Regions from separate parts of the Homo sapiens genome. Here region 1 is linked to region 2. Evidence: fine-mapped expression QTL. Tissue or cell type: whole blood. Region 2 holds a variant in brackets; the other region holds the start of a gene. All regions are shown on one strand. Distances are from middle to middle.

Region 1 (8,103 bases), 22 kb before region 2:
ACAATTTGTCTTTTTAATGGATATGGCCATCTGGTCTGTAAACCTTTGGAGGATTGGGACCATGTTTTATATTCCTTGTAATCTACATATACTTATTCACTCAATACTACTTTTTTTTTTTTTTAAAGACAGAGTCTCAGTCTGTCGCCCAGGCTGGAGTGCAATGGCACAATCTCGGCTCACTGAAATCTCCACCTCCCAGGTTCAAGCAATTCTCCAGCCTCTGCCTCCCGAGTAGCTGGGATTACAGGCATGTGCCATCACGCCTGGCTAATTTTTGTATTTTTAGTAAAGACAGGGTTTCACCATGTTGGTCAGGCTGGTCTTGAACTCTTGACTTCAGGTGATCCACCCGCCTCAGCCTCCCAAAATGTTGGGATTACAGGCATGAGCCACCACACGTGACCTCACTCAATACTTACTGAACACCTACTATAGATATTAGACACTGAGCTAGATAAACACAATATGCATTCAGTAAATGCTGTTGAGGACAACCATTTCAACAAAGTCCTAGGACCTAAATCTTCCAAAGCAATTTAGGGAAGCTCTGGGAACTCAGGAAGTCTGATCCCTACTCCTGGGCTAAGCAGTTTATATTCATTATCTCATCCAGTCCTCAGAGATAGGTAACTTCCTCAGAATCAAATTACTAGTAGGGTGGAGGTGATGTCAAACCCCAAAGCATATGCTCTTAACTGCTATACTCTTCTGTCTCCCAGAAAGGCACAAACGGCTAAACTAACAACGAGATTAAGTGGTACATACGTCACATTTCAGCCAACCTTTACTTCCTCTAGAGCATTCTCCCTCCCAACTGTATCTCCTTTGTGCTCCTAAAGTGCTTTCTGCTCACCCACCTCTATCAAAACATGTATCTATCATACCAAGATCAGCAACAGGCTGTTTACCTGTTTGTCTCCCTGATTTCACTAGGAGCTCCATAGGGCACATAACAGAGAAACAGTTAAGTAAGGCCAGGCACAGTGGCTCACACCTATAACCCCAGCACTCTGGGAGGCCGAGGTGGCAGGATCACTTGAGGCCAGAAGTTTGAGACCAGCCTGGCCAAGATGGCAAGACCCCATCTCTACAAAAAATTTTAAAATTGGCCAGGCCTGGTGGTATGTACCTGTAGTCCCAGCTACTTGGAAGGCTAGGATAGGAGGATCGCCTGAGCCCAGGAGGTCGAGGCTGCAGTGAGCCATGAGTGCACCACTGCCCTCTAGCCTGGGTGACAGAGTGAGACCCTGTCTCAAAAAAAAAAAAAGGGTTCTGTAAATGAACAATTTACAAATATATGGTAAACTGTTTGCATAACAAGAGCTAAGGAAGGGGAACTCTGTCCAGCACCTTTTGCATGTCAGACATTTTACCTACAGAATCTCACTCAATTCTCACAACAAATATGCAAAAATTAATTATTCTTATTTTATAGATGAGGAAACTTTGGCTCTGATCGACCTGACCATGTAACTTGCCCAAAGTGACACAGCTGGAAAGCAGCAGAGCAAGTCTGTTTATTTATTTATTTATTGGAGACAAGGTCTCAACTTTGTTGCCCAGGCTGGAGTGCAGTGGTGCAATCGTGGCTCGCTGCAGCCTCAACCTCCTGGGCTCAAGTGATTCTCCTCCCTTAGCTTCCTGAGTACCTGGGACTACAAGTGCACATCACCATGCCTGGCTAATTTTTTAAATTTTTTTGTAGAGACAGGGTCTCACTATGTTGCCCAGGCTGGTCTTGAACTCCTGGCCTCAAGAGATGTTCCTGCCTTGGTCTCCCAAAGTGCTGGGATTACAGGTGTGAACCACAGTGCCTGTGCCTAGTGAGCAAGTTTGTTTAGTTCCAAAGTGGAGCTCTTTTCATTACACCAAGTGACAGTCTTGGGCAAATATGAAGTGGTGATGAAAAGGGAAAACCTCGAGTCCTCAGAGGCATAAACGGACAAAGATGACTCCTTTCTGAAGTGAGGAGTTATGTCCAAGGGAGATAGGACTTCAATACTATTTGAGCACTGGAAATGTGGGATTTGATGGGTTGGGAGCTGACCTTCAGGCATGACATACAGCTGTAAGAAGGCAAAAGAGGTACAAGTGTGGTGACTCCTAATTGCCTGAACCATTGCCTGAGCTTTTTTCCTGATTGTGCTTCTTGGCTCCAATCAACGCCTCACATTGCTGACAAAGATGACTTTTTAAAATACAGAGCTCATCACTGCACCCTTGCAGCTCTCAAAAGCTTACAAAGTTCCTGACTGCCTAGAAAATAAATTGCCATGCTCTGCTAAAATCTCCCTTGCAGTTTTATCTAAACCTGAACACTCACTCAATCATCAAACACCCTCCATTCAGAGGTCCTTGCCCCCATTAGCTCCCACTAGCCCCACGGGCCTAGAAAGCTGTCTGTCTCTCAGTCCTGCCTGATAATCAAAGTTAACTTCAAAGACCCCTCTTCCAAAGTTCCTCTCCTCTTTTCCCTCTGGAAATCCATAGAGCTTAGCAAAGCTACTGTGGTGGTTATTATCAGAATAGTCAGTGTCTCTGATAGGAAGCCAGTGACATACTACTGGGAAGTACAGCACACTGGTTTAGAGCCTCCTATTCAAACCGTGGTCCTCAGACCAGCAGCAGCAGTGTTTGAGCGCTTGTTGTTAACATCAAGTTCCTCCCCAGACCTCATGAATCAGGATCCGCTTTTTTTTTTTTTTTGAGACAGGGTCTCACTTTGTTGCACAGGTTGGAGTGCAATGGTGCAATCTCGGCTTACTGCAACCTCTGCCTTCCAGGCTCAAACGACCCTCCTGCCTCAGCCTCCCTCAGCCTGGGACCACAGGCGTGCACCACCACGCCCGGCTAACTTTTGTATTTTTTTGTAGGGACGGGTTTTCGCCCTATTGCCCATACTGGTATCGAATTCCTGAGCTCAGGCGATCCGCCCGCCACGGCCTCCCAAGGCGCTGGGATTACAGGTGTGAGCCACCTCGCGCAGCCCAGAATCCGAATTTTAACAAGACACCTATGCTATTCGTATGCACATTAAGTTTGAGAAGCACTGGTGTCCAATATCCATTCAGAGGTCAAAAAAAAAAAAAACCAAGCTCTGCTACTTAATAGCCATATGACCTTGGGCAAGCTGCTGTTAATCTGTTAGGCTCGGTTTCCTCGTTGTGAATAATACATCCCTAAAAGTGTTTTAAGGCCGAAATGCTATCAATAATGCCCACAGTGTGAGTAGTGCATGGCATGGAGTCATGGCTCATTTGCGCACACAGCACAACACGAACTGAGGAGAGTAGTTTCGGGTCCTTCACAGACTCAGTTCCTGCTTCACTGCACCTCAGTTTCTTCAAGTGCCAAATGACACTCTGGCTCTGCTTGATTCTAAAGAGCTAATGGGGCGCGGACTCCCCGGAAAGGCGAGATGGGGCCAGCTAGGCAAAAAGGCACGGAAAAGCAGAGCACCTCAGGGGGGCCTACGGCCGGGCCAGTCTGCAGCCCTACGACCCCTTCTCCTCCCAGCCGATCCCGGCCGCGCAGCACTCACCAGCCGTCGCGATCGGCCTCCGCCGGATTAGGTTATCAATCAGGCCGGAGCAGTAGCCCAAGAAGCCGATGTAGAGGAGCCGCGGGTCGGTCAGCTTGGGCGGGGGCAGGCTCCGGGCCTCATCCGGCAGAAACCGTAAGGGTTCTGGGTTCCGCCGTGCGATCATGGTGACGCCGTTTCCACTTGAGGCCTGGTCTCAGACCACGAACTACAAGGAAAACCACGACGACCACTACCCCGGCCTAAGCGGTCAGCTTTCTCCTCCTCCTCTGCGCGCCGGACTCACGGGCACGGCGCAGCGCGGTGCAGCGCCCAAACGCTTCCCGGTACGTGTTGCTGCGGGAACCCGGCACGCGAAGTTCCGGGCTACTAAGTTTCACTTTGCTCGTCCGCCCGCGCTAATTCTCTGGTGGGAGTGGGATTCACGGGCCTGGTAACGCGGGGTCGAGGAGTACCCCAAACGAGCCAAACTGGGCGAAGACTAGGAGATACTGATTTTCTTTTCTCCCAACTTCCCCAACCAGAATTGCCTCTCCCTCCCCTGCCCCTTCTGGAAAGATTTATCTTTTCATCCAATACCCACAAATGGGCATGATGCGTAGTTTTGATAAACGTAATTAATTGAAATTCCATAAAAGCTAGTTTTCGTTTTCTGAGTTTTCAGTCGTTCATTCGCATAGACACTCCCTCCAAAGCCTAAAATTAAGGTCTGGCCAGCAACAAAAGAATTTAGAGAAGCCCAGGACTGGATCGTTTTAGTCTATTGTTGAAATTCAGATTCGGAGGCAGCACCCTAAAATGTTTCACCTCTGGGTCTTCACGTCGTTACACATGGCTGAGTGAGGAGGTGTTCCCTAAAGGTTTGAGTAATGAGGCCAGGCGCCGTCACTCACGCCTGTAATCCCATCACTTTGGGAGGCTGAAGTGAGCGGATCACTTCAGGAGTTCAAGACCAGCTTGGCCAACATGGTGAAATCCCATCTCTACGAAAAATACAAAAAATTAGCTGGGCGTGGTGGCGGGTGCCTGTAGTCCCAGCTACTGGGAAGGCTGAGGCAGCATAATCGGCTGCTCGGGAAGCTGAGGGGGGAGAATCGCTTGAACCTGGGAGGTGGAGGTTGCAGTGAGCCGAGATCGCACCATTGCATTCCAGCCTGGTCAACAAGAGCGAAACTTCGTCTCAAAAAGAAAAAAAAAAAGGTTTGAGTAATGAAAGAAGGAATTTATAATTCTGTTAAGCAATTTTCCAGTCTCTGCTGTCAGGCCTCTCAGCCGAAGCTCAACCATTGTAACCCCTGTGACTTGCACATATGCGTCCAGATGGCCTGCGGGAGCCAAGAAGTCTGGGGCAGCCAAAAACCCACAAAAGAAGTAAAACAGCCACTTCCTGCCTTAACTGATTAACAAACATTCCACCATTGTGACTGGTCCCTGCCCTACCTTAACTGATCAACCATCCTTGTGACATTCTTCTTCTGGACAATAAGTCTTATGATCTCCCCATCATGTACCTTGTGACCCCCTCCCCTGCTAACAATAGATAACAACCACCTTTTACTGTAATTTTCCATTACCTACCTAAATCCTATAAAGCAACCCCTTCCCCATCTCCCTTCATTGATTCTCTTTTCGGACTCAGCCCACTTGCACCCAAGTGAATAAACAGCCTTGTTGCTCACACAAAGCCTGTTGGTGGTCTCTTCACACGGATGCATTTGACATTTGGTGCTATGACTTGGATCGGGGGACCTTCCTTGGGAGATCAATCCCCTGTCCTCCCGCTCTTTGCTCCGTGAGGAAGATCTACCTACGACCTCGGGTCCTCAGACCAGCCCAAGGAACATCTCACCAATTTTAAATCGGGTAAGTGGCCTCTTTCTACTCTCTTCTTCAACCTCTTTCACTATCCCTCAACCTCTTTCTCCTTTCAATTTCGGCACCACCCTTCAGTCTCTCCCTTCCCTTAATTTCGGTTCCTTTCCCTGTCTGGTAGAGACAGAGGAGACCCGTTTTATCTGTGGACCCAAAACTCTGGCGCTGGTCATGGACTCGGGAAGACTGTCTTCCCTTGTGTTTAGTCACTGCAGGGACGCCTGCCTGATTATTCACCCACATTTCAGAGGTGTTCGATCACTGCGGGGACACCTGTTTTGATCTTCCACCTTGGTGGCAAGTACCACTTCCCCTGGGTGGCAAGTACCACCCCCCCTCTCTCCATGTCTCAACCTCCTCCTTTCTCTAAACTTACCTTTTTACTATGGGCAACCTTCAGCCCTCCATTCCTTCTTCTTCCTCTCTTAGCCTGTGTTCTTAAAAACTTAAAACCTCTTCAACTCTCACCTGACCTAAAACCTAAGTGTCTTATTTTCTTCTGCAACACCACTTGGCCCCAATACAAACTTGATAATGGCTCTAAATGGCCAGAAAAGAGCACTTTCGATTTCTCCAGCCTACAAGATCTAGATAATTTTTGTCATAAAATGGGCAAATGGTCTGAGGTGCCCTACATCCAGGCATTTTTTACACTTCGTTCCTTCCCTAATCTCTGTTCCCAGTGCGACTTGCCGCAAATCTTCCTTCTTTCCCTCCCGCCTGTCCCTTCAGTCCCAACCTGAAGTGCCGGTGAGTCTTTTGAATATTTCTTTTCTACCGACCCATCTGACTTCTACCCTCCTCCCTAGACTGCTCCTCCTCAGGTCGCTCCCCACCAGGCTGAATCAGCTTCCAACTCTTCCTCAGCCTCCACTTCCCCACCCTACAACCCTTCTATCATCTCCCCTCCCCACACCTGGTCCAGCTTACAATTTCGTTCTGCGGCAAATACTCCCCCACCTGCCCAATAATTTCCTCTTCAAGAAGTGGCTGGAACTGAGGGCATCGTCAGAGTGCATGTACCATTTTCTCTATCAGACCTTTCCCAAATTAATCAACACTTAGGCTCCTTCTCGTCAGACCCCACCAAATATATACATGAATTCCAGTATTTAACCCAGTCTTACAATTTAACCTGGAGTGGCTTAAATGTCATCCTAATTTCTACCCTCTCCCCAGATGAATGGGAAAGAGTGTTTCCTCTAGCCTAGTCCCACACAGACACCCACTGGCATTATGAGCCAGGCCTCCAGGAAGGTATTACAGACGGTTCCCTGAGAAGATCCCCAGTGGCACTATCAGGCAGGTTCCTCAGGTATAGCTAGGTGAGATTACATGATTTCCTGCCTAGTTGAAGGGCTTAAAAAGGCAGCATACAAATCTGTTAATTATGACAAACTTAAAGAAACTACCCAAGGTAAAGATGAAGACCCAGCCCAGTTCATGGCCTGTTTGGTGGCTACCCTTAGATGCTTTATAGCCCTAGACCCTGAAGGGCCAGAAGGCTGTCTTATTCTTGATATGCATTTCATCACCCAGTCAGCTCCTGACATCAGAAAAAAGCTTCAAAAATTTGAATCTGGCCCTCAAACCCCACAACAGGAATTAATCAACCTCGCCTTCAATGTGTACAATAATAGAGAAGAGGCAGCCAAGCAGAAACACATTTCTGAGTTACAATTACTTGCCTCTGCTGTGAGACAAAACCCAGCTGCACCTCCGGCACACAAGAACTTCAAAATGCCTAAGCTGCAGTGGTCAGGCTTTCCTACAGGACCTCCTCCCTCAGGATCTTGCTTCAAGTGCCAGAAATCTGGCCAGTGGGCCAAGGAATGCCTGCAGCCCAGGATTCCTCCCAAGCCATGTTCCATCTGTGCAGTGACCCACTGGAAATCAGACCGCCCAGCTCACCCGGCAGCCACTTCCAGAGCCCAGCCCCTAAAGCTCTGGCCCAAGGGTCTCTGACTGACTCCTTACCAGACCTGCTCAGCTTAGTGGCTGAAGACTGACGCTGCCCAATCACCTTGGAAGCCCCCTGGACCATCATGGATGCCAAGCTTCGGGTAACTTTCACAGTGGAGGGTAAGTCTGTCCCCTTTTTAATCGATACAGGGGCTACCCACTCCACATTACCTTATTTTCAAGGACCTGTTTCCCTTGCCCACATAACCATTGTGGGTATTGACAGCCAGGCTTCTAAACCTCTTAAAACTCCCCAACTTTGGTGACAACTTGTACAACATTCTTTTATGCACTCCTTTTTAGTTATTCCCACCTGCTCAGTTCCCTTATTAGGTTGAGATGTTTTAACAAAATTATCCACCACCCTGACTATTCCTGGACGACAGCCACATCTCATTGCCACCCTTCTTCCCAACCCAAAGCCTCCTTCACTTCTTCCTCTTGTATCCCCCCACCTTAACCCACAAGTATGGGATACCTCTACTCCCTCCCTAGCAACCGATCACACACCCATTACTATCCTATTAAAACCTAATCACTCTTACCCCCCTCAGTGCCAGTGTCCCATCCCACAACAGACTTTAAAGGGACTAAAGCCTATTATCTCTCGTCTGCTACAGTATGGGCTTCTAAAGCCTCCAAACTCTCCTTACAATTCCCCCATTTTACCTGTCCAAAAACCGGACAAGTATTACAAGTTAATTCAGGATCTGTGCCTTATCAAC
Region 2 (8,103 bases):
CTATGTTGCCCAGGCTGGTCTTGAACTCCTGGACTCCAGTGATCCTCCTGCCTCGGTGTCCCAAAGCGCTATGAGCCACCACACGCCACCAGCACTTCATTTATTGACTGAAATTTAGGAATTTGTTGTTGAAAACCACCCATATCTCTGTAAAGTTTTAAAACATGATTACAAAGTATAGTGTTTGGAAAAGAATAAAAGAATCTTGGGCTCTAGACAAAAAGTCTAGATTCTAGTCTGTGTTGGCACCAACAAGGTATTCTTCAGAGTCTGGAGCCATTTCCCTCCCGGTAATATAAGACATTGACTTTTTTTTTTTTTTTTTTTTTTTTTTGAGACAGGGTCTTGCTTACTTCCCCAGTCTGGAATACAGTGGTGTGAACACAGCTCACTTAGCCTCGACTTCCAGGATTCAAGTGATCCTCCCACCTCAGTCTCTTGAGTAGCTGGGACTACAGCGCATGTCACCAGGCTTGGCTAATTTTTTGATTTTTTGTAGACAAAGGGTCTCACTATGTTGCCCAGGCTGGTCTTGAACTCCTGGGCTCAAGTGATCTGTCTGCCTCAGGCTCCCAAAGTGCTGGGATTACAAGTGTGGGTCACTGTGCTCAGCTGAACTGCTTTAAGGCTATATTTGGACTTTGAAGTCAAATGAAAATGTATATGAAGCCATGTGAATATATGAAACAGATCAAAGCTATTTACTATGGACAGAGCCCAGGGCCTCTGAGGCAACACTGAAGAACCTCCAGTGCTCTACAGAACATTCTGGAAATCCCTACACTAGATGAGCTCTTCCCGTTCTGACATCACATCACTTTCATAATAACAACCAAAAAAGTAAATTTGGTCAGGTTGAAATCCATCCAAATTCATCTTCTACTTTTTTTTTTTTTTGGCTTGGACAACAGCAAAGACGTGAGGAACTATACTGGTCCTTTGTGTTAATGCTTGTACTAGTAAAATATTTAGGTTTTAATCATGGCTGGTTTGGTGTGCTTCATTCATTCATTCAACTGTGCTAAAAACTGGGGCTATGAAGACAAGTGTGGTCTCAAACTGCTAGTCTCCTGGGGAAAAGAGGTAAACAAGCATAACACAGTATTACAGCAGTTAATGGTATCAGCAGACTCCTGGCACAGTGGGAGCAACTCAATTCTGCAGGAGGAGGGAAGGTAGAGGGATAGGAAAAGATTCACATAAATAGCAATGCTATTGACCGAGCACTTAAAATGCATCAGGCAGTGTTCTTAATCTTTTATGTAATCATTTTAGAGATGAGAACATTCAGATAAAAGATGGTTAAATAACCTGCCTACAGATTTTAAAAAAAATGATGGAGGCAAGATTTACAACCAGGACATACGACTTTAAGGCCCTACTCTTAATCACTACACCATTCTGCCTTTATATTGACAGACATGGTAGCAGTTAAGCTGAATCTTGAAGAGGTTCATATAATCAGATGACAGGGTAGAAGTCAGCAGAGAGGAGAGGAAGCAGCATGAATGAAAGGGAACAGAGGTACAAGACAGCATGGCACACGGGGAGTTTGAAGTTGTTAGGCCAGCTGGAACACAGGGTGGAGGAGAGTCTGTGGGCAGGAAAACAGGTTAGAGGCGCTACGCTTCCCTCCCCCTTTGGCAAGATCCCCATCTTTGTCTCTGCAATAACAGACCAAAAAGAAGTCTTAGAAAATGGAGTAGACGGAAGAGATGGAATAACTGGATTCCATCTCAGAATGCCATTGACCTTGGAGTCTCTCTGATCTTAGGGGATAATGGGTAAATAAAATGTATGAATTCTGCCTGAGGGCTGAAAAAAAATAGAAATAAAATAAAATGTGTGAAAGTTCCTACTGTTGACTAGATAAACGTTGGCTGAATCTGAATGTGTGGCAGATATTACACAAATTGGGGTCCTGGATAAAAAGCGTATATGAAGTACTCTTAAGGAAGGGAAAGGATAAGAACCAGACTGCAAAAATCACTTCAGTTCCTGCGCATGATGAAAGGTTTAAGTGGCTGCCTTATAAAAACTGCAGTGCTTGCTGTTAGAATAAATGAGCTGCACGAGATATCCTTAAATCAATGTAAAGTAGCTGTGGTTTGTAGTTTCTGCTGCCTGGCCAAACCAGTACCTTAACTACTCCCCTTGGCTTTGTGAGTATTGTCACTGTATAATTTCAAACAAAAAAAATCTCGAACAAGGTGTACAGAATGGGGACAGTACACCATCTGCCTGTGTACACGCCAAGAGGAAAATGTAGGAGCTGGTAACGATCCAGAAGTTTTTTTGTGCATACAAAATAGCATTTCATTTATATTTCCTTAGCACAGGATTCTAATTATGCTTTATATCCTCACAATGGTTAGCATAGGCTACAAATAATTATGCGGTTAATCAGATTCCCTGTTTGGCTTGAGCAAGCACAGCAGTCTGAACGATCTCAGACAATTTTAATAGGGAAAGGTGAGTTTTTTTCAGATGTGTTTCAGTGCTTATGGAGGGCCAGTGGCTTCTCACCATGGTGACAATCCGGTTGCTAGGCTGGGCAAGACCAAGTGTGGAAGAATGGTGCTCTGAACAGTTCTACTGAAACAAATGGCTGATGCCACTGGCAACTTTCTTCAAGTTCTGGTTAATTTCCCATGAAATAATTGCTTGGCACATATCTAAGCAGTTCCTTTATTCATTGTTTCTTTGTCTTGCCAATAGCAGAGTCAATCAATACTGAAACATACAGTTTGAACCAAGCATATGTGATGCCTACTGCACAATACACTGAGGTTAGTAACAAAGGGATGAAGGGGTACTTCACCTTCCAGGAGGTGAAAGGGAATACAAATTCACAGCAGACTTCCAGAGGCCCCAGGCCAAGCAGGTAGAAAGTTTCCATCCAATTAAAAAGAGGTTTTTCTTTTCTGAAGGAAAAAAGAGAGAAAAGTCTGATTTTAGATGAGTCATCCTGGTTTAGCAAACATTTCCTAGCTAAAGCTTCCCCATCTGCACTGTCTTGCTGTCAATTATTATAGCCAAGGCCAGAGTCAAGAGTATATTAAATTTCACATTTAGGGCCAAGTGCAGAGGCTCATGCCTGTAATCCCAGCACTTTGGGAGGCCAAGGCAGGTGGATCACCTGAGGTCAGGAGTTCTAGACTAACCTGGCCAACATGGAGAAACCCCATCTCTACTAAAAATACAAAAATTAGCCGACCAGGGTGGCACAGGCCTGTAATTCCAGCTACTTGGGAGGCTGAGGCAGGAGAACTGCTTTAACTGGGTTGCAGTGAGTCGATATGGCACCACTGCACTCTAGCCTGGGCGACAGAGTGAGACTCTGTCTCAAAAAATAAATAAAAATAAAAAATAAGTTTCACATTTAGAAAAAAATGATAATTATATACGTTATATTATCTCAACAATCTAAATTTACTCCACCATTGACCTATGCTGTTATTTAGCTCAA[G/A]CTGCTCAGAGAGAATTAGTTCTGCATTTGAAAGAGGTAAAGGGGTTGGGTGCTGTGACATTGGAATAAGAACATGAGAAACAATATAGAATTGAAGATTTAAAAAAAATTTTCTTTTTGAGATGGAGCGTTGCTCTGTCACCCAGACTGGAGTGCAGTGGTGCAATCTCAGCTTACTGCAACCTCCACCTCCTGGGTTCAAGCGATTCTCTTGCCTCAGCCTCCCAAGTAGCTGGGATTACAGGCGCCTGCCACCATGCCCAGCTAATTTTTGTATTTTCTATAGAGACAAGGTTTCACCAGATTTTTAAAATATTTTTTATTTTGGTAAAATATATATAACATGAAATTTGCTATTTGTTTAACCATTTTTAAGTATACAGTTTGATGGTATTAAGTAGATCAATAATATGCGCCCATCGCCACTATCCACCTTCAAAATATTTTCGTGACCCCAAACAGAAACTCTGGAACCATTAACAATAACTTCCCATCCCCCTGTTCCCTCAACCTCTAATCTACTTTCTGTCTCTATGTTTGTTTATTCTAGAATTTCCTATCAGTGGAACGATATGATATTTGTTCTATTCTCTCGTTTCTTTCACTTAGCATGTTTTCAAGATTCATTCATGTAGCATGTATTGGAACTTCATTCTTTTCTTTGGCTGAATAATCCACTATATGTATATATCACACTTTATCATGTATTTGTTGATGGACATTGGGTTGTTTCCATCTTTTAGCTAGTATGAATAATGCTACAATGAATACTGATGTACAAGTATCTGTTGAGTCCCTGTTTCCATTCTTTTGGGTATAGGGGTGGAATTGCTGGGTCACATGGCTATAACTGCATTTTAACATAGTTAATTATATAAGTTTTTATGGACACAGTTATGAACCATAAGCAAGCTTTAAAAAATTACAGTTGGCCGGGCATGGTGGCTCACACCTGTAATGCCAGCACTTTGGGAGGCCAAGGACGGTGGATCACCTGAGGTCAGGAGTTTGAGACCAGCCTGACCAACATGGAGAAACCCATCTCTACTAAAAATACAAAATCAGCTGGGTGTGGTGGCGCATGCTTGTAATCCTAGCTGCTAGGGAGGCTGAGGCAGGAGAATCGCTTGAACCTGGGAGGCGGAGGTTTCAGTTAGCTGAGATCGTGCCATTGCACTCCAGCCTGGGCAACAAGGGTGAAACTCCGTCTCAAAAAAAAAAAAAAAAAATTATAGTTAACATTACATACAGTTTAGAAGAGAAAAAGTTTCCATCTATAATTCTGTAGTAAAATTTGTACATAGTTGGGTGCGGTGGCTCAACGCCTGTAATCCCAGCACTTTGGGAGGCCGAGGTGGGTGGATCACCTGAGGTTGGGAGTTCAAGACCAGCCTGACCAACACAGAGAAACCCCATCTCTAATAAAAATACAAAATTAGCCGGGCACAGCAGCTCACGCCTGTACTTCCAGCACTATGGGAGGCCAAGGTAAGTGGATCACCTGACGTCAGGAGCTCGAGAGCAGCCTGGCCAACATGGTGAAACCCCACCTCTACTAAAAATATAAAAAATTAGCCAGGTGTGGTAGTGATGCATACCTATAATCTCAGCTACTCAGGAGGCTGAGGCTGGAGAATCGCTTGAACCCAGGAGGCGGAAGTTGCAGTGAGTGGAGATCGCGCCACTGCACTCCAGCCTGGGCGACAAGAGTGAAACTCCGTCTCCAAAAAAAAAAAAATTAGCTGGGCATGGTGGCGCATGCCTGTAATCCCAGTAACTTGGGAGGCTGAGGCAGGAGAATAGCTTGAACCCGGTAGGCGGAGGGTGTGGTGAGCCGAGATCACGCCATTGCCCTCCAGCCTGGGCAACAAGAGCAAAACTCCGTCTCAAAAAAACGAACAAAAAAAATTTGTACATAGTATCTTTTAGTTTTTTCCATATCTATCTGTATTTAATAGTTTTATTCATAAAGCATATTTTACATTCAGTTTTTGAGTTTTCATATAGGATTTTAATTTAAGTAGTCCTCCTCAAATACTCCCCCAAACTAAAGACACAAACTATGTTGTCTCGACTGAGTGATGGGATTGAGTGATTTCTCCCTCTATTTACCAATTTTTTTTGTAATGTTGTCATATTACTGTTATAACTTAAAAATAAAATTTAAAGAGCTTATTTGACCACTTAGGTGTAAACATTTCACAAGAGTAAGTATAATTTTAAACATTTTTTTGATTACCTGAATAAAGTCTTCAGTGACGAAATACTATATATGGTGAATAGTAACATGAGTAAGATTTTAATGGGAAGTTCTGTTAAAAGAATAGAAAAAAAAAGATAATTTAGCTGATGACAGAAAGACTTATGATGCTGAAAGTAATATAAGCACACTGACACAGCTATATAGTGCTAATAATACTTTTTAAGTTTAATTTTACATTTTTGTGACATCTAGAGATGCTGAGAATTACAGGAAATTGGAGGTTTTATTTAAGAGGATGAATGATCTCTATCCAAGAGATTTTAGAGTTGTTTAAATTAGATGTATTAATCTGTGGGCCTCGATGAAAAGGTTGTGATAGTCAAATATATTTTTCTCAGAAGACGCTGTTTACCTGGTGCAGTGAAGAGCAGAGGAAAGAGGGAATAATGTCCTGTTGTGGTCAGAATCAGAAAAATCGAAGCGTCTCCTGCTTTTCCCACAGACAAAAGGCTAAAAATAAAAATAATTTCTTAAAACAACAACTGTTATTACACTTGCAAATAGCTTAAATAAACTGCATCTCCTATTACATTAGAACTGGCTGAGGCATAGAAGAACATGCTGATTTTGGCACAAGTTCAATTTAGTTGAGAATATTAATTTTTTAGTAGGAAATTTTAAGCAATCAATAGCATGTATCAAACTGAATCAGGGGTATCGTAAAAGAATCTTGCTTCTGGCCGGGGACAGTGGCTCATGCCTTTAATCCCAGCACTTTGGGAGGCCGAGGCGGGAGGATCACCTGAGGTCAGGAATTCAAGAGCAGCCTGGCCAACATGGTGAAACCCTGTCTCTGCTAAAAATACAAAAATTAGCTGGGCATGGTGGCGGGTGCTTGTAATCCCAGCTACTCAGGAGGCTGAGGCAGGAGAATTGCTTGAACCTGGGAGGCAGAGGATGCAGTGAGCCGAGATCGCGCCACTGCACTCCAGCCTGGGCAACAGAGCGAGACTCTGTCTCAAAAAAAAAAAAAAAAGAATCTTGCTTCCCTGAGTAATTGCCTTCTCCAAAGACAGGAATGTTGTGGGATTGGGAGCTGCCTAGTGGTGGCAGTCAGGGAAACAGGACTTGGAGTTTCATTTCCAACCCTATAGCTCATCTCTTGGACAATGCCCTTCACCTGCTGGTGTTTGGTGTGAATTCAGACTAAAGACATTAAAAGTTTTTGCTTTACTTTTTAATTTGGAAACTCCAAGCTGCTAAATAAACCCAGACAAGCCACATACTGGCCTGACAAATTTGCTTAATATATGTTCAGAGCTTAAATGATTTCTCAAGATTCAAGAAAAATATAAAGAAAGAGGCTATTATTACCATTTATTTATCTATTGGGTTTCAACTATGCCTAAACTGGACACTTACATTTAAAATGGTTTTTTTAGCATGGCATAGTGAAAAGATCATAGATTCAACATCATAAGATTCAGGTCCTAACTCTAATTCTTGCGACCTGTATGACTTTGGACAAGTCACAAACATTTTGAGCCCTAGATTCTTCAGATGTTAAGACAGGGAATAAGCCTGTTTTGTTGGCTCACATCTGCAATCCCAGCACTTTGGGAGGCTGAGGTAGGAAGACTGCTTGTGCCCAGTAGTTTGAGACCAGCCTAGGCAACATGGCAAGACCCTGTCTCTACCAAAAAGTAAAAAAAAAAAAAAGAAAGGAAAAAAAAGGGAATAATACCCATTTATTTTAACTATCTTTTTTTTTTTTCTTTTTTTGAGACAGGGTCTCACTCTATTGCCCCAGGCTGGAGTGCAGTGGCGCCATCTTGGCTCACTGCAACCTTCACCTCCCAGGTTCAAAGGATCTTCATGCCTCAGCCTCCCAAGTAGCTGGGATTACAGGCATGCACCACCATGCCTGGCTAATTTTTGTATTTTTAGTAGAGATGGGATTTTGCCATGTTGGCCAGGCTGATCTCAAACTCCTGGCATCAAGTGAACCACCGCTTCAGCCTCCGAAAGTACTGGGATTGCAGATGTGAGCCACCATGCCTGGCCAATTATCTTAAAGATTATTGTGAGGCGCAAAAGAAAGAATGCAAAACAAAAACAGTTCTGGAAAATCTGAAATGTAGTACAGTATCAGGTATTATTCCAGAATAGACTAAATCCTTACTTTGACTAACAACACTTAACAAGGAACCATGGGACCTTATTTTCAGACGGGATGACACCAAAGCCCAAGTTTTTTCTTTTTTTCATTTTTGAGACAGAGTCTCCTTCGGTCACCCAGAATGGAATGCAGTGGTGCGATCTCGGCTCACTGCAACCTCTTCCTCCCGGGTTCAAGCAATTCTCCTGCCTCAGCCTCCCGAGTAGCTGGGACTACAGGCATGTGCCACTATGCCCAGCTAATTTTTTGTAT

What was found. PIP is the estimated chance that this variant, and not a neighbour inherited with it, causes the effect.
Region 1: NDUFC2 starts here. The variant in region 2 is fine-mapped to the expression of NDUFC2 in whole blood (TOPMed, PIP above 0.99).

Annotation. Positions count from the first base shown.
Region 1 is chr11:78,076,035-78,084,137 of GRCh38, forward strand. NDUFC2 (NADH:ubiquinone oxidoreductase subunit C2) reads right to left here and starts at 3,828. Exons shown (of 3, transcript NM_004549.6): 1 at 3,545-3,828. The coding sequence starts at 3,710. NDUFC2-KCTD14 (NDUFC2-KCTD14 readthrough) reads right to left here and starts at 3,828. Exons shown (of 3, transcript NM_001203262.2): 1 at 3,545-3,828. The coding sequence starts at 3,710. It overlaps LOC105369401 (a long non-coding RNA gene), which reads left to right and starts at 5,161. Exons shown (of 3, transcript XR_950342.2): 1 at 5,161-5,407; 2 at 7,296-7,498. RefSeq lists an enhancer at 3,548-3,607 and a silencer at 3,811-4,000.
Region 2 is chr11:78,098,272-78,106,374 of GRCh38, forward strand. It overlaps ALG8 (ALG8 alpha-1,3-glucosyltransferase), which reads right to left. Exons shown (of 13, transcript NM_024079.5): 11 at 6,085-6,182; 12 at 5,709-5,781; 13 at 2,675-2,924. The coding sequence ends at 2,693. Among named protein-coding and RNA genes, the nearest start is that of NDUFC2-KCTD14, 22 kb to the left of the region's middle. RefSeq lists a silencer at 6,632-6,926. The variant G/A (reference allele first, on the strand shown) is at 3,470.